3 separate regions of the Homo sapiens genome follow, and all the other regions are linked to region 2. Evidence: fine-mapped expression QTL. A gene starts in region 2. Each other region holds a variant in brackets. All regions are shown on one strand. Distances are between the middles of the regions.

Region 1 (5,915 bases), 48 kb before region 2:
CAGGAGGCCGAGGCTGCAGTGAACCATGTTCGCGTCACTGCACTCCAGACTGGGCGACATAGGGAGATACCCTGTCTCAAAAAAAAAAAAAAAAAAAAAAAAAAAAAAAAAAAAAAGGTGTGAGCAGCCTGAGGCCAGGCCCTCATTCCCCTAAAGAGTGGCCTTGAAGCTCCCCCCAACAACCCTGGCTGCCGGGGCTGGGGGTGGCCTCAGGAGCCATCTCTGGCATGGTATGCTGTGGGTAACCAGAAAAGGGGGAATTTGTAAAACATGATGCTTTAATCAGGGTTTTCCCTGAACCAGAACAAGCCGGCAGCATGTCAGAGGCATCATGTCCCATTAACTGCAAAAAAAAGAAAAAAAAAACGAAGGGAAAAAAACGGAAAAACCCTCTGCTAGCTCCATCTCCTGACTGTGAAACTAGGACGGGTTTTATGTTCGCCACACGGTTTCCAGTGTGACCTCTCAGTCCCACTCAGAGAGAATCAAATAGGCTGGTGGGGAGTGGATGGGCGGGTGGCAGGGGCCGAGGCCAGGCCCGAGACCCCCCCACCCAGGCACCCCGCCTCGCTGCCCCTCCCTCTCCCAGCTTTGCTGAGACCCTGAATGGCAGCCTGGTCAAGTCCCATGCCCAGTGCCCCCAGGGTGCCAGTACCACCACCAGCAGGCCCCGCCTTCATTGCTGGAGGGCCCCTACGACAGCCAGCGGGACCCCGTCTTCCTCCCGCCTTCGTCAGCCCACGGCCAGGAAGGGGGCGGCTGGGGCACTGTGTGCTTCTCCCAAGGTCATTGGGAGGACTGGGAAGAGGGAAGAGAGAGGAAGGGAACAGCCATGCTGCCCTGGGTCTGGGCAGGTGTGGCGCCTCCCTGCAGGCAGCCCGGATTCAGCGCAGCCCTGCCGGGCAGGGGTGGGAGGGCTTGGAGCGGAGCACAGTGGGCCGGGCCAGGCGGCTACTCTCACCTGGTTCGGATGTGATGATGTCGGCCGTGGACTGCTGACCCTCCCCATTCTTTTCCTCGGCGCTGCGCACCCGGGAGCCAGGCCCGGGGCTGCTGGCAGGGCAGACATTTAAAGTGCACGGGGCGCTGGGCCGAGGTGGTGGGGTGGGGGAGCTGGCGGGGGGCTTTGGGTCGGGCGGATGGCAGCAAGGTGGCAGCTTGGTGGGGCCTGCAGCGGGTGAGGGGGCGCCCGGGGCCGTGGGGGTTAAGGCAACTGGCTTGTGGGTGGACTTTGGGGCCTTCTCCTGGGCGGGCTCCTCCAGATCCAGGTGCTGGTCTTCGGGCTTCCGCTGTCAGGGATGGGGGCAAGCTCGGTCAGGCTCAGGATCCCCTGACCCCAGTGGGCCCCCTGCTTGGGTTCATCCTGCCAGAGGCCAGGCATGCAGGGGTCTCCTGGAGCCAGGTCCGGCCAGGCAGGGTTGGGGAGAAGTGCCCGGCCCAGGTGAGCGTGGCTAGGGGCGGTACCTGGAACTGGGCGGCCCTCTGCTGCTGCAAAGCATAGAGCTCCTGCTGCCGGAGGAGCTGCGGCCTCGAGTACACAGGGAGCTGGCCCGGGTGCTGCATGTGAGAGGCGGGGCCCCGGCCCCCGTACATGGGGGGCCACAGTGACGCCTGGTCCATGACATCCGCTGTGGGCAGGGCCCAGGAGGGGTCAGCCTGGCTGGGGAGGGGACAGCTCCGGGGCTGCTTCCCCGCCACCCTTTCCTCAGCCCACCAAGCCCACCGCTCCCTCCTGAGCCCTGGCCAGCACACCCCCGGCTGCCCCTCCTTCCAACAGCACCCCCCAAGTACAGCAGCCTGGACCAGGGGCCCTTACCAAGTGCGTGGGGGGCGCTGTGGGGTGTGGGCTCTGAGGGCAGGATGACCAGCTGTGTGGGGGCGTCCTGTGGGAGGGGGAAGACAGAGGGCACAGGGCCAGCCACGGAGGCGGGGAAGCCGGGGGGCAGGTTCTGGTGCAGGGCAGGGTGCCCCAGGCCTGGGAGGCAGAGGGCACAGTGGTCAGGCCTCGCACTCTCGGGGACCAGGAGGGAACCCTCATCAGCCCCAGGCCAGCCCCCGCCCTTGGATCACTGACCGTAGGAGTGCCCCCCCATCCACAGGGAGGGGCTGCGGGTGCGGGGCAGCCAGGGGGGATGGGGGTGGGTGTGGGGGGCTGGGTCCCCGCCCAGCTGGCCGCTCTGCATCATGAGGTGGGGGGCCAGGTCCCCAGGGCAGCTGCTCGGTGGGTGGATCCGGGCGAACTCTACGCGGTCTTTGCTGTCCCTGTAAGACCTGGGGCTCAGCCCTGCCGCCGGCGCCAAGGCCCAGCTCCCCATCCCACCCCCGGCCCTTTGTTGTCTCTGTAAGACCTGGGGCTCAGCCCCACCAACGGTGCCAATGCCTGACTCCCTGTCCCACCCCCTGCCATCAACCTGGGAGGGAGAAC[G/A]GGACCTGGAGGCTCAGGGAAAACCCCAGGCTCCAGCCTCAGTGCTCTGCAGGGCTGACTGGGGGCCATCTCCTGGCCCCTGAAAGTGGGTAACCTGACCGCTGCAAGGGGTTAACTGAGACCCCCAACCCCGGGTGAGACTCCAGAAAGGCTCTAGGGGTGGGGAGAACCCCACCCACGGCCGGCCATAGAATCTGCTGCCCCAGCCATGACCACCCCTCTTTCTCCACGTGGCTCTGAGTGGGGAGCCCCAAGCCCAGGCCTAGCCCCACTCTCCAGGGCCACAGGCCCAGCTCTCACTGCAGCAGCAGCTCGCGGCTGGCAAGCCCCAGGCGGTCATCACATAGCCTCGTCCTCTCCTCCTCAGCCTCCAGGTCCAGCGCGTGTGTGGAACGGGGCCCACCGCCACCTGCACAGGGTCGAGACAGCAGACGGGAGAGGGTTGGGGCGGCCAGGGAGCCACCAGCTAAGGCAAGCAGTGACCCCGCTTCGAGCTGGGGGGCCTGATGCACTGAGGAGGATCCCCTGGTCCTGGGGCCTCGGAGGGTCTGCCAAGGGCAGGTGTGGGAGCTGGGGAGCCGGGGCGCAGGGCAGGGCCAGCTGGGCCCCCTAGACTGTCCCGGCCTGCCTCCCTCTCTGTGCAGGGCCTGTACCTTTGAAGGCGGGGGCGGCCCGGCCCTGCCGCGCAGTGTTGGTGCCGTAGGCTGCCTCAGACCGGCTCACTGTGTCCTTCTGCCGGGCCAAGGCCACTGCAATGCCCACAGGGGGCTGCCGCACCTCCCCGTCGCCGTGCGTGGTGTCGTGCTCCCTGCTGCGGGCACAGTCCGGCCTCTCCGACTGGCCTGGGCCCTTAGAGGACAGGAACTTTGCTTCCTGCTGGATGCAGCTGGCCTTGAGGCCACCCAGGCCCACCAAGGGTGCTTTCTGGCCCACCACCAGGGCCTGGCTGCTGTATTTGAGCAGGTTCTTCATGGCTGAGACCTCGTCCGGCGGCGCAGGCAGTTCCTGGGGCAGAAGAGCCGCCTGCTGCAGGCCACTGCCAAAGGGGTCCAGGTAGGCGCCAGCCTTGCGCTCCTCGCTGATGGCCATGGCGGTGCCCTGGCCTGCCTGGACACCCCATGGGGGCAGGTGGGGCCCACTGTAGCCCAGGGATGCCAGCTCCAGGGACTTGCGCTTGGCCTCAGCCCCAATGCCCCCCTGCTCCACCTCGGCGGCCATCAAGTGCTGCTGGTGCCTGATGCGGGCCACCTTCTGTGCCCCTGGGGGGCCGGCCGGGGCTTCCTTGCCAACAGTCTTATCTAAAGTGCAGCAGGCCTGGGGGGCCTTCCCGCCCAGCGGGTCCTGGTGACCAGGCCGGGCACAGTCCTGTGAAGAGGTGGGCAACTCGAAGTAGCCGCTTTTGTCCAGACCGCTTTTAGGGAGTCCGGGGAAGGAGGCCTCGGGGCCTGCGCTGCTGAGATAGTCGAGGCCCTTTAGCCGGGGGTTGAGGGCCGCCTCAAAGCCCCCAGGCCGCCGCTCGCCCTTGCCCTCGGCCTTCAGGTGGGCATAGGAGACTCCATAGGGTGCAGCGTGGTCGGGGGCCATGGTTCCCTCCAGGTGCCGGTCCTTGCCCTCCCCTGCCACGGCACAGGCCTCGGCGGCCTGGAAGGGGCGGCCCTTGTCGGCCAGGTGTCCCACAGAAGGCACGAAGGTGGGCCCGCTGGCCTTTAGGTCCCGGGGGGCTTTGTCCTGCAGCGGGCAGAGCCCGTCAGGGCCCCCGTGCAGCTGCAGGCAGGGGAAGGAGCCGGCGGCTGTGCTGAGGGGCGGGGGTGGCCCGGCGTAGGATGCGGTGTGGTGTAGCATCTGCCGCCGCTCCAGGCACTCGCTGAAGGCCGGCCCGGGCTCCGGGGGGCCTGCTGCCTCCTTTGCACAGCGCCCGGAGGTCACCACCCCCGTGCCAGGCCGCCCCAGCATGCCCCCTGCACAGCTGGCTAGCGCAGCCCTGCCCATCTCGCCGTTGAGCACCTTGGTGTTGAGGAGGCAGGAGGTGAGGTGCTTGGGGCGGCCCTCGCAGGCCCCTCGGGGTGCGGGGCCGCCCTCCCTGCAGTGCCCGTCGGCTGGCACGGGCAGCACCAGCTTGTGCCGCTCCTTGCCACCGTCCTCCTCTGCCGCTGGCCGCTCCTTGCCCTCAGCGGCCTTGCCCGCCTTCTCTCTGCCCAGCTCTTTGCCCACGAGGAAGCGGTCGAAGTCCTTGGGGCCCTTCTGCAGGGAGCCTGCCTCACCCCGGTCTCGATCCCGGCTGCAGGAGCCCATGGGGTGGGCAGGGGCGGCCCGGGCCACGCTGGGGAAGTTGTGGTTGGCCGGCAGCAGCGTGGGCTGGGGCGGCAGGTTGCGCAGGTAGAAGTTATCTGTGTGGGAAAGAGCCAAGGTCAATGGGAGGCCTTAGGGGTGAGGCTGGAGAAAGACTCCCTGAGACAGGTGCTCCAGGTGCCTCCCGGACACCAGCTGGCACTGACTCCAGGTTACAGCCTAGGGAAGGTTTTTGCTCTTTTTTTTTTTTTTTTTTTTTTGAGACGGAGTCTCGCTCTGCCCTCTGTCGCCCAGGCTGCAGTGCTGTGGCGTGACCTCGGCTCACTGCAAGCTCCACCTCCCGGGTTCACGCCATTCTCCTGTCTCAGCCTCCCGAGTAGCTGGGACTACAGGAGCCCGCCACCAGGCCCAGCTAACTTTTTGTATTTTTAGTAGAGACGGGGTTTCACCATGTTAGCCAGGATGGTCTCGATCTCCTGACCTCGTGATCCACCCGCCTTGGCCTCCCAAAGTACTGGGATTACAGGCGTGAGCCACAGCGCCGGGCTGGTTTTTGCTTTTGTTTTTATAAAATTGTAGTGAAATATGGGTAACATAAAATTTCCCATTTTTGGTGCACAGTTCAGGGGCACTGGGCACACTCCCCCTGCCGTGCAGCCGTCACGAGCATCCATGGCCAGAACCTCTCACCTCCCCGAACCGCAGTTCTGTCCCCGTGAAACACTCACCCTCTGCCCCCATGTTCAGCTCCCCACACCTCAGAGATGGGAGATGCAAACCCGAGGCCAGTCTCTCCCCTGCCTGGCCCAGTGCCAGTGGGGATTTTCGGGGGACGCGGGGCAGGCAGTGGATTTTCGGGGGACGCGGGGCAGGCAGTGAGTGTTACAGAGCATCTCTGCTGGGTCTTTACAAACAGGCACCAAGACCTTGGAAACCAGGGACAGGTGGCAGGCGCAGCTCCTGGCGCCCCCAGAGGAGAGGCGAGGAAGGACGGGTGGGTCGCGGAGGAAGGGCTCACCCACCTGCTGGACACCCTGGGAGCTCCCAGCCCCTCGGCCTCTCATCTGGGTGTCTCAGGCTGCTGGGGCTAGGGTAATATGTTGAAATGGAGAAAGGCCAGTGGCTCCGGGGGCAGAGAGCAGCAGCTGTGCTCACCCTGCCTGGTGGGGGGTGAGTGTCTGGGGTCCCTGAAACGGTTGCC
Region 2 (5,915 bases):
CAATTTTAGACTCTGGGTGCGGAGGGTCGGAGCCAGTGATAGAAGCTGCGTGCACCACCGTGCTCCCAGGCGTCCCTCCGAAGGCGCTCCCTGGACGCACTTCACATATTACTCCTCATCTTCTAAATACGTATTGTTTTAATGTTTATCACCTCCAACAAAAGGGAGATGGATAGGCTTGATATTCCTAATTAGGAACTTTGCGGAAAACCTTGTGTTTTTGTAGCCATTCCACCATGACAACAAAGCGATTAAGATGTTTTCCATCTACTGAATACCTTTTTAAATTGCGATATTTTATGGTCCGGGTTCTAAAACGTCTTATTTGCAGACTATTTTGTGTTTGATTTAATCTATAACCGAAAACATAATGTATTAAGTGAATACATATTTGCTCAGCTGATAAGCTTTTTTAATATTTATTCGGAGAGCTTTTGCATTGTAAATAAATGGGTCTACACAAAGAGTTCTCTTTGTCTGGCAACTACATACAAAGGCGTTTGGGGCTCCCTTCCCTCTGGGGATCGCCAGCTCTCTCCCCGGGTCTAACAAATAGCTCGGCTCCCAAGCCCCGATCCCGGCCTGCAAAGCGAGCGCCCGGCCGCCAGGGCCCGGAGAGTGCTCTGGCGAGGGGGCTGCGAGCGCAGGGGTCAGGGGAGGGGCTGCCCGGGCTGGACTAGGGACGTGGGGGCCCCCAGCCCCGGCCGGCGCCTCCCGAGCCCCGGAGGGCGCCGGGCGGGACAAAGGGAAAGAAGGAAAGGGAGGGAGGTCAGAAACCTGCAGCTTCAAAGGCGCCGAAGGCCGGAGAGGGGCCGGGGGCTGCGCACGCGGGGGTGCCAGGCTTCCTGGCGGCCTCCAGGGAGTCGTGTGTGCTGTGCTTTTGTTTTGTGGTTGTTTTTTTTTTTTTTTTTCTCTCCAATAAGAAATTTCAAAGTTGAGAAAGCGCGAGCTGCCGGCGATTCTCGGGACGCGGGCTCGGCTACGAAGCAACAATTTTAATCTCCCACCCCCTGCGGGCGGATCGCAGGCCCGATTGTTCCTTTCTCACCAGCCTGCTCGACTTTTTAAGCAAACAGGAGGTGGATTACTGTCGCCTGCCTGCGCCGCCACGGCTCTGACCGGATTGGAGAGAGCTTTTCTTTGTGTTCTCTCCTCCCGGGGAGAGGCCGCGCCGCGCCTCCGCGTCTGCCCGCGCCGGGCTTCGGGGGCCTGGGGAGCCTGAGGCGGCCAGGAAGTGGGGCGAGGAAGGGCGGCCACACGGCCCGAGCTGGGAGTCCCACAGTCCCGCAGCGGCGACGCCGCCACCCGCCGAGTGCCGAGGCCCGGGGCCCACTCCCAGCCCAGCTCCAGGAGAGGCCGCGCCGGAGGACCGCGAGGACGGCGCCGCAGCGCCAGGTCGGGCTGAGGTAAGGGAGGAAATGGAGCGAAAAGTGGCGGCGGGCAGAGGGCCCCGGGCGGGCGGAGAATCGCTGACGAGGGCATTTCGGAAGGAACTGAACCTAGGAGCACAGGGCTCCCTCCCGGGAAGGCAGGGCGTGACCCTGGAGCCGCCGGTCCCTCTTGCCGCGGCCCCAGGCGTGGCTGGCGCGCTCCAGGATCTGGAGCTTCTACAAGTTTGCTTTGTTTCCTGCTTTTGCATCTAAAAACCCGCTCTCTCCTCGCCCGCCTGCCGGAGACCAGGACTCTGGCCCGTCTGCCTCCCTCCGGCGTCGTCTCCGGGAGCGCGGGCGCGGTGGGGCCTGCAGGCCGGGCTGGGACCAGGCGCGCCTTGGGGCGCGAGTGGCTCGGCCGTCGCCGCAGAACCCGCTCCCTGCGAAACAGCCGCACCCGCTCCCTGGGAGAGTCATGAGAACTGGGGTCGCGCCTGACCCCCGCGCCCGAAGAAAACCAGCCCGCGGACCCCGCCACACGGGCCGTGACCCGAGCCCCGCGCGCCGTCCCGAACGCGCGCGGTGAAAACGCCCCGCTGCGCCGGCCTTGCTCGGTCCCCCTCCTCCACCCCCACTTCTCCGGAAAAAAAAAATTCTGAATTGGGAACGAAGACCCGAAAAACTCGCCATGACCATTCCCCTCCCCGGCCCCTAGCTTCGGCCCGGAAGGCCCCTCAGGGCAGCGGCCGTGGGTACCACGACCCGGCCAGTTCCCCTCGCCGCGGACCGACCGGGCAGGGCCAACCCAGGACTGTTCCGGGGAGGGGAGCAGGGTAGGGGAGCGAATGTTGGGGTTCGTTCGTGGGTCACCCAGAACTGGGCGCACGCTGGCGGCGCCCGGACTTCGCCTACTGTCCGCCCGGTGCCACCCGCGCGGCTCGCGCCAGACGCAGCCTGGCGGTCCCTGTCCTGTCTTCGAGTATTTGTTTTTAATGCTGGGTGTCGATCGAGACAACAAGCGCTCAGAGCAAAGCAAGGATGCATTACGGGGGTAATTTTAAACCGATCGATAAGATTTTTCAGAGAAAAAAAAATCGCTCATAGTCCATATTTTTTAAGAAAAAAAAAAGCCTCAACATTTTAACGGATTTTGTTAAAAGGGAAGATATATACTTCTTAACATCACAATCCTGAATTTCTTTTGCTAAAAAAAATGTAAAACCCCAAAGCCAGAATAAAAAATAAAATAATAATAAAAATACAAAAACAAAAAAAAAATGAAAGCAATTTCAGTTACTTACTGGAGGCTGTTTCCTGGATACAACTGAATGCAATACAATTAAATCAGTAAATGTGACTTTGTTTTGTATTCCTATTGGTATTTTCAATGTGCTGACTGTTGCACTGTAAATGCACCGCTTCCACAACAACGACTCTAGCGAGCCCATCCAGAGCGGCTCTCAAACCTGCAGCCTGGCGCGGCGAGCCACGGGCCCTGCATACTAATAAGCTCGTGCCACTCAGCCCGGAACAGCCAGCGCGCTGATTGGCCGCGCAGCCCTCCACGGCCGGGAGCTCGTGCCACTCATTCGGCGTAAACAGGCCTCCCAATAGGCTGGCGCCGGGCCAGGGAACTGCCAATCAGGAAGCAGCGGGGCTACTACCAAGCCCGATGGCGCCTAATTCAAGCCCGGCGACTGCGCAGCTCCTCTGCGCAGATCATTGCTGCTGAATGGGAATGTGGTGGCGCAGGGCGGGAGAGGGAGCTGGAGCGAGCGAGTGCGCGTGTCCCGGCGGAGGGGGAGGCGTAGACACAGACACAGACACACACACACACATATATGTTTAATCCAGCAGGTCTAACGTTTGGCTTCTGCCGCACAGAAGGCCAAGGGAAGAAACACCACCACCCCTTAAAAGTAGCTGCTTTTTCTCCCTGGAATCTGTCTGGCAGGTGGCAGGTAGGCCAGACCTCCAAGCCCAGAGGCCTCCCCAGGTTGCCTGGCCCATCTACCGCTCTGAAGCTGCTGCCTGCCCGGACCCGAGCTCGCGGATGCACGCACGCACGCCCGCTGCTTGGGCAGCAAAAGCTTTGAATAGCCCGTCCGGCTCTCTCCTCCCCATGACCTGGGGATCAGACCCTGGGAAGTGAGTTCTGAGTCTCCAGCCGTCTACATTACTGGCTCTCAATTTTATCTCCCTCTGCCACACTTTGCAACAGAGCAGCTACTAAAATGAAAATCAGGGATTTATTGAGAAGACAAGGATTGCCCTTTCTTCATCTACACCTAGATTTAGAAAATATTTTCAGTTTGGTAATGGGGGAAGCGGGTATGGTGTGGTAAACCATGTATAGTATTTCTCAATGCTGCTCCCTGTCTGCCTATCTGCTAAATCCTCACTCCAACTAAAGCAAGCCACTGAACAATTTTTATCGTAATCAGATGCAAACCACTTCTAAAATATTCCGCAAACAAATATTTCTGTTAGAATTTGGTTTCCCACCCAAATGCTATTTATTCTCAGGGAGTCGAGGTGATGTCTTAGTGGCGATGGATACATTTATTTTTGCTCCTCTTTCTCCATGTGAATCTCTGCCTCCCCCTCTGGGGGAAAAAAGGATATTTAAACTAGGAGCCAACTGACAGATTCACACGCATTCGAAATTCTCCACCGTCTCATTCCGGCAGGGACACGAAAGAGTTAAACTCAAAGCCTGTTGTCTCTCTGTTTCCCCGCCCCCACTCCCGCTCCCGCGGGACCGCTGGGATTGGTTGGCACTCCGCCAGTGGACTGTCCATCACCGAGTGTAAACAAGGCGCTGATTGGCTGTTGTCCAGTCCGCACTGGGCCTCCTGAAAAAAGCAATTACTGGCTCCGCGGTTTCAAGGCGGCCCAAGGCCGCTTGATGAAAGGAGATAAGCTGGGGACCGTTTCCAGGATCCCCGCGGGCCGACCGGGGCAGCCCGGGAGCCGAGGTGCGGCGGAGAGCCCGCGGATCAAAGGAATCTGGAGAGAAAGGGGAAGCGGGCGGCCGGCCCCGGCCGGCCTTCCCCCCCGCAGGCCACGCCGACCTGGGGTGGGGGGCTGCGGGCCGCGGGCGGGGACTCCGGGATTTCCCGCCTGCCTGAGTCGGGGCCTACGCCGGCGCCCGCTTCGGGCGGCTCGGCCCGGAGGGGAGCTCCGGAGAGCCCGGGGCTCGCAGGTAAGCACCGGCGCTCCGCGGGCCGGGCCGGGGACGCAGGACAAGGCGCGGGGCCCACCCCGGCTGGCTCGGGAGTGGCGGTCGCGCGGGCCCGGCTCCCGTCTCCGGCGTCTCCCGGCTCCGGCGGCCGGGACCCCCCGCGGCCGAGCCCCTGGCCAGGCCCCAGGCCGGCGCCTTCGGAAGCGACGTCTGGCGGGCCGCGGGGCACGAGGGGGAGAGCCGGGAAGCGTAAATCCCCGAAGCGCGCGGAGATCCGATTAGCGCGCGGCTATTCATTAGGCTGGGGGCGATTGAATTAGGTCCCTGGGCGCGGTCGCCGGCTGGGGGTGTGTGGCGCCGACCCCCGGGCTCTTGCCGTGGCCTCGGGAGGCTGGAGCAGCGAGCAGCGGCCCCAGCGAGTGTGTCGGGGAAGCGGGTGCCTCCGGGTCCCGGCCCCGCGGGTGCAGGCGGAGGCTGCCCGCTTCCCGCGTACACCGAGGACGGCCGGCCCGGCTCCGGAGAAATGGCGCTTGAGAAAGGAGGGGAGGGGAAGGTTCCCGGACCCTGGGCAGGGACCCGTCGCCGGGGACCCGCGGAGCCCTCCGGGGATGGAGGAGGCGCGAGCTGGAAGCGGCGCGCGAGCCCGAGCGCGGGGCTAACACCGTGGGGCCCAGTCTCTCCTGGCTCGGGTAAGTGGACGCGCCCCGAGGCCCCGGGTCCACGCAGGGCGCCCCTCGCAGACGGCGCATTTCCTACTCTCCTAAGGAACCGAGTTCCCATCACTGCCTCCGATGAGCCTGTTTCCGGATCAGGAACCTTTTTCAAGTTAATTTTTAAAGCCTCATTTGAATTTTTTAATATAGGAAAATACGTATACGAGAAAAATCTTGGATGCAACAAAAAGAACACCGTGGCCACCCGTGGTGTCCCAGAAGTTGCTCTGAGCTCCTCGCATCAGGGCAGGTGCTCCACCTCTAACCGCCCTGTGGGGGAACGGGAGGCCCCAAGCCCCTGGGAGTCCTGGTCTCCTCTAGAGTGTGTTGGAAGGACAGCCGCTGGAAAGGCCCCTCAGAGCCCCTAAACCAGCCTCCCCTCCCCCGTGGGCAGATTGTTCGAGGGTCCTGGAGCCTGAATGATGGGCCCTCGGCTTGCCCACCCCCATCCCCAGTCATCAATCACCATTTGAGAAATGCCCACTGCCAGGGACATGGGAGGGCAGAGGGTAGCTCGCGGGTGCGTGGCCCCTATCTCCTCAAGCTGGTTTAGACCCTTCTGGCTCAGCCTCACCAGATTCCTAGGATGAGCACTGGCTTCAAATCCCCCAAGTGCTGGTCCCTTCGTGTCCCCGAAAGAGGCTGCTC
Region 3 (5,915 bases), 82 kb after region 2:
GGGCAGGTGGGAAAAGACCACGTGCATGAGGTGTGCATGTGAGTACGTGTGTGTACATGTGTACACACACGTAAGAGACAAGGATATACCCTCAACTCTTACTGTCCCCCGCACCAGACCCTCAGGGGAGGCTCCGGACCCCAGCCTGTGCTCCCAGGTGGATGGTGAGGCTGCTTAGAACAGTCCTCACTCCGGGCAACGCCTGGGGAGGATCCTGGGGCAGGAGAGTCCCTGCCACGTGTGGAGCCCAGAGGAAGGTCTGGGAGGTCCCAGGAGAGGGAGTGATGCCTGGGGCAGGGCAGGGCAGGGTGAGGGGAGGCTGAGGCCGGGAAGCCGAGAAGACCTGGGCAGCTCTGGGGCCCCAGAGGCCTCAGCCTCGGGGAGCTGCCAGGTGCTGGGGAGAGCGTGGGTGCAACCCAACCCTGCCCTGCGCAACGCTCCTCAACCTGTGCCCTGTCACCACCCCAGGCCCTGGGTCCTCCCTACTCTCCCAACCCTCAGGGACCCTCTGTCGGCCCCCAGCCCTAAGGATGGCGCGTGGCTGCCCTCCCTGGCTGCCCGCCACCCCTGGGCTGGAGCTCCAGCCTCTTTCCCACTCCCTCTGGCCCTGTCAGTCATCTGCCTGCTCCTGCTGGCCAGTGGCCTCTTGCCCATGTGCTGAAAGAGCCATTGTTCAGGAGGGGATGGAGGGGAAGGGTCGGCTGGTCAGGCCTGGTTACTGGTCAGACTCCGGCGTGTGCCAGTGGATGGACTCGGCTGTCCCCTGGGGCCAGCTGGGCAGCCCACGGGACCTGGAGGCAGTGTTGGGTGGCTGGGGAGGCCTGAGTGAGCTCAGAGGCCACCTCCCCTCCTCTCAGCACCTTCCTTCCCAGCTGAGCCTGAGGGAGGATGAAGAAGATGCATTTGGCCCCGGTCGGCTGCTGCAGCCTCTTGTCCAGCAGAGACCCTGGGGGGCGGGGGACACACAGGGGCTCCCTGTGCGGCCAAAGAGGCATTGGAGAAGGGACTTCCCTGAGGCAGCCTGATGCCTCTGACTGGCGGCAGCTGGGAGCCCTCCGCTTGAGGACCCGCCGTCACAGCATGGCCCCTGCAGGCCGGGGCTCTAACGTGGTACTACTGTAGGGCTGGCAGGGCCTGGGCGTGGGGACCAGGCAGAGCTGGGGTCCCAGGCCCTGCATGGTGTCCACTAACAGGACACCAGGTAGTCTCCCGAGCCTGCCGACCTCCCTGGCCTCAGCCATAAGATGGGCTGAGAGAGAGTGGAGGCTCTGCGGCGGGATTGGGTGAGGAACATTTGAGCTGGAGGCCAGCCTGGCTCTGTGCGGCCCCGGGAGGCCAGAGGTGCCCCTCCGTCATGTGGAGGAGCTGACTGCAGAGGCCTCCCATCCTGTTCCTCAGGCAGGGGCCCCGTCTGGCACTCCCAGGCCACCCCGGTGCTGGGGGAGTTGCAGGTGGTGGGGTCACCTTGGGGGGGGTACAGCCTGTCCACATCAGCTCTGCTTCCCTCTCTCCCTGCCCCCACAGGCTAGCTTGGCTGAGCCCGATGCTTCTCAAGGTGAGGAGGGCGTCCTTGAAGCCTCCGGCCACCCCACACCAAGGTCTGTGCACCAAGGTCAGGGCTGCGCAGGAAGAGGGGAGGGGTGGCGGGGAGGTTATGGTCTGGAGGGAGGAGGGAGGGCAGGGGAGGGAAATAAAAAGAGATTACATTTTTTAAAAGGTACTCTAGCTGTCTGCTGACACCGCCCCTGGTCTCCATCCGTTTTATAGCCTGATGGGCTTGAGCAGCTGGGCCTCGTCTGTCAGGGGCATGCAAAGGGTGGGGGCTGGGAGCAGAGCCCCCACAGGAGGCCTGGATGGGGGCCACCTCTCCCCGGGCCTGGGTTCCCTCTGGGGTTGCCCAGGCCGGGCAGGGGCGCTCTGTGCAGGTGGGATGGGTGGAGGGAAGCTGGCCCGGGGCGGGCGGCCACTATCTGGGCCCATCTATTCCCCTGACAGGTCAATTTTCTCTCATGTTTTACAGGAGCTTTCAGGGCAGGAAATGTGATCGGGCAGCTGATTTATCTCCTTACCTGGTCTTTGTTCACAGCCTGGCTCCGGCCCCCCACCCTGCTGCAGGGCCCGAGGACGTCTCCCCAGGGGTCCCCACCTCGGTCTCCTTGGGGGGACTGTGCTGAGCCCAGCTGCCTCTGTGAGATGAAGATAAGAAGGCGAAGACATGAAGGGCCTGCCTGGGGGCAGTCTGGCTTTCTTGCAGGGGGGCTGCACCTGGTTCCCTCCTCCCTCTCGCTGGCAGCCTGCGGGGTGGTGAGGATGAAGGGGCTGTGGGGCCGGGGTGCAGGGATTAGAGGGAGGTGACTGCCATCTCTTCCTCCTCATCGTGTTTTTCACCTCTTAAGTCAACTTTAGATTCTCGGACTCAGAGTTCTCTCCTGACGGTGGCAGGGTCCTCAGATCACCGGTGCAGACAGGGCCAGACAGGGCCAATGTGGGGACCCACTCAGCCTGTGGCCTCTGCAGGAGGGAGGTCGGAGGCCTCAGCAGCCACCCCGGCCACCTCCTGAAACAGTGAATGTCCTTCATTTTCAGCTGGCAAGCTCTGATCTTACAACGAGGTATGGAACTGTTCAGAAAACTTTCAGCAGACGTTCGAGGGAAAACAGCTCAGCTTCCCATGCCCCCCACCTCTGCCAGGAGCGACCCCATATCCCCCAAACAGAATTCTGGTAGCCCGGGACCACAGGG[T/C]CTTCCTGTGCCTCCCCTGCCAGCTCTGCATGACTTTGTCACGTACTTGAGTGCTGGCTGAGATGATGCTACCGCTACCAAACAGGTGGGAGGCCAGCCCCAGCCCCAGCCCCAGCCCCACCGGGGCCGGAGCTCCCGGTGAAGAAGCGTCTGCCTGGTTCGCAGGTGTCCAGGACACACCAGTCGCCTGACTCCCGGTCAGGCAAACGCACACATCAAGTTCTTGCAAGCCAGGGCTCTGCTGGCATCTTCAAGAGGAGGGAGGGTCCTGGCCCTGACCACAGGGCTCCCTTAACAGGAGGAGTTACAAACTCGGCTTCCTGGGGGGCATCGTGGGGTGTGCTGCCTGCCAGGAGACCCCACTCCTGGTCACGGGGTTCCGTCCCACACAGTGGCAGGAGCCATGCATGATTCTTGGCTGAAGAAGAACCCGCACAGCTATGTGGTCTGCCGCCCAGCAGGGAAGCCCCCACATCAGCCCTAAGGGAACTTCCCAAAGCTCAGCAGGTGCCTCTTCCTGCCATCCGCTAGGTCTTCTCTTGGCCCCTCTCCCAAGCCTTGACCCATAGCTGACACTTCTAGAAAAGTCTTTACCGAGAAACGGACCGGCTGCATGGGTGGTGAGGAGGGCAGTTGCCCAGGGCCTGGCATCAGAGGGGCCTGTGGCTAAGGCTGTCCTGAAATTCTTAATCATTTTACCTCTGAACTTGCGGGTTTTTGTTGTTGTTTTTTGAGGCAGAGTCTTGCTCTGTCACCCAGGCTGGAGTGCAGTGGTGCGATCTTGGCTTACTGCAACTTCCGACTCCCAGGTTCAAGCGATTCTCCTGCCTCAGCCTCCCGAGTAGCTGGGACTACAGAAGTGCACCACCACACCCGGTTAATTTTTGTATTTTTAGTAGAGACGGGGTTTCACCATGTTGGCCAGGCTGATCTCAAACTCCTGATACACCCGCCTCGGCCTCTCAAAGCACTGGGATTACAGGTGTGAGCCACCGCGCCCGGCCCTTTTCCTGCCTCCTAAACAAGTGGCCAGGAATTCTCCTCCTGCACCGGGTCCCCAGATTGTGTGGCAAGCCCTGCAGATGGCACAGGGGACTGGTTCTTCCTCGTGGAAAGCCAGGCCCGGACACCTCTCGGGCATCGCCTGTTGGGGTGACCCTCCCACACCCAGCCTGGAACCCTAGCCAGCTCAGCCTCCGTCCGCTGAGAAATCAAGGTGACCTTGTGGCTCAGCCCTCAGGGGGCACTCACCACACAAGAGTTCCCTTTCAAGACCCCCTGTTCGGGGCTGGGGCCCCCAGGAACGGTTGGGGCACCTTCCTGGGGCCCTGTTTTTCCCCAGGAGCGGGGCCTGGGAGCTGAGGGCGTCTCATCTCCCCACAGGCATCTGCTGCTGCTCCTGGCTGCCACTCACCCCTGTGAGATGCTGAGGGCAGGATACCTGTCTGTGCGGGGCGTGGGAAAAAGGGAGAAAGCCTGGCAGAGGGTTGGGGGCTAAGAAGCAAAGGGCGTGGAAGGGCCACCGTGCACTTTTGAAGTCTCTACTTGCCAGTGGCCACCCCACCTCTCCCTGCCCTCATCCAAGGACGGACAGGCCTGGCAGGTGGACCGGAGCTGTGGGGCAGAAGCATCCCAGGCCTGGCCTCAGAGGAGGGAGGCCATGGTGAAAGTGGAGGCTGTCTGCATCCACCTCCCCAGCCTTTGTCACCGGGACCTCAGCCTGACCCCAGGCCCACCCCAGGCTGCTCACCGAGGTGGGTACCCTGCCCACCGCCAGCTCAGATGCGGTGTGTGGACTCCCTTCTCTCTGGGGGTGAGCGGGAGTTCCCTCCCCTCCACATCAGGAGCTGGGGGAGAGCTGGAGGGCCCTGGGATCCCCTTGACCCTGGTCATCAGCCCCAGCCCTGACAGGCCCTGCGTGTGCCATGTGTGGCCTGGGTTTGGAGCTCAGCACCCTGCGGGAATTCTATTAAATCTCCGATTTTATCTGAAAACTTCACCCACATGTTGCATTGCTCTGTGAGGCGTCTGTGTGTGTCCAGGCAGCAGTAACAACGCTACTAATGCTGGCGGCCATCACAGGAAGCCAGTCCGAACGTCCCCCAAGGGCCTGTTTCACCCTCATGACACCAGGCGTGGCAGAGACGAGGAGCAGAGGCCTGGACCTCTCAGGGTCTCAGCAGGGGGAGGCCGGCCTGTCACGAGTGTTTGATGACCATGGAGAGGAGGTGGTGGAGGTAAGCGTGGCTGCTTCCAGGGGAAGGGCGGGCAGTGCTGGGGGAGGGGTTCTGTATTGATTAAGCACGTACTGTGTGCTAGGTCCTCTGTGGGCTTCATTTAATTTATTGCCACAGCCACGGGAGGGAGGGGTGGTTAGCGCTATATTTCAGATGAGGAAACGAGGCTCCGGTGAAGACACTTGTCTAGTCCTCTGGCTGTGGAAGGTGGGAAAGGGATGTCAACCTGGGCTCGGGAGAGATAAGGAAGCTGAGGCCTAGAGCCTTGTCAGGCCTGGAGCTGCTGTCCTCCCGCTGGGGCAGCACCGCCTGCCTTCATTTAGAGCAGCAGATCCTACAGCACCCGGGTCCTCACCTATCAAAGGCAGACACCATTCCTGACCACGTGATGGCCTGGACGAGACCAGTGTCTGGGTGTCTGGGTGTCTGGGTGTCTGGATGGGAACTGGGAGGGCCCGGCCAGGCCCGGCACATGGTGACTCTGCCTGCCCTTTGCAGCTGAGAGCTGGCCTCTCCTAGACCTCAATGTCCACTGACACCCAGTGCCCCTGCAACCTTCTCTTCCTGCCCCACGAAGGTGGCACTCTCCTGGGGGCCGCTCCAGCCCTCTGCCTGGGGAGCAAGCGGAGGGGCCTGGGACCCCACCTGTGTTCCTGTCTCTATCCCTCCTCAGCTGTCACCAGCTTTAATTACCCCGGCTCCATCCGCCCCGGCCCCTGCGCAGCTGGAGAGCCCCTTGGGCGGGCGCAGGGCCCCTCGCCTGGGCACGCAGCATTCCTGCATTCCTCCCCGGGGCCCACCGACCTGTCCTGCCGGTTGTGGGCAGCTTCCGGGTGCGGGGAGCCCGGCGTGTGTTTGGGGGGGTGCGCAGCTGCTGGATGGGGAGCCTGGAGAGAGCCCGGCTGTGCCCCGGGACTCCCAGCTGCGTTGCCCACA

The links. PIP is the estimated chance that this variant, and not a neighbour inherited with it, causes the effect. A credible set is the group of variants that fine-mapping cannot tell apart.
Region 1: its variant is the best candidate, but not a certain one, in a credible set for the expression of BAHCC1 in whole blood (TOPMed, PIP 0.81).
Region 3: its variant is the best candidate, but not a certain one, in a credible set for the expression of BAHCC1 in whole blood (INTERVAL, PIP 0.84).

Annotation. Positions count from the first base shown.
Region 1 is chr17:81,440,728-81,446,642 of GRCh38, reverse strand. BAHCC1 (BAH domain and coiled-coil containing 1) reads right to left here. Exons shown (of 28, transcript NM_001377448.1): 5 at 3,079-4,812; 6 at 2,726-2,834; 7 at 2,075-2,262; 8 at 1,817-1,975; 9 at 1,465-1,628; 10 at 962-1,289. Among named protein-coding and RNA genes, the nearest start is that of MIR3186, 7.5 kb to the left of the region's middle. The variant G/A (reference allele first, on the strand shown) is at 2,426.
Region 2 is chr17:81,392,392-81,398,306 of GRCh38, reverse strand. BAHCC1 (BAH domain and coiled-coil containing 1) reads right to left here and starts at 2,850. Exons shown (of 28, transcript NM_001377448.1): 1 at 2,672-2,850. RefSeq lists enhancers at 895-1,503, 1,504-2,112, 4,196-4,753 and a silencer at 4,138-4,407.
Region 3 is chr17:81,310,091-81,316,005 of GRCh38, reverse strand. TMEM105 (TMEM105 long non-coding RNA) reads left to right here. Exons shown (of 3, transcript NR_165247.1): 2 at 1,525-1,598; 3 at 2,021-4,741. Among named protein-coding and RNA genes, the nearest start is that of LINC00482, 3.8 kb to the right of the region's middle. The variant T/C (reference allele first, on the strand shown) is at 2,743.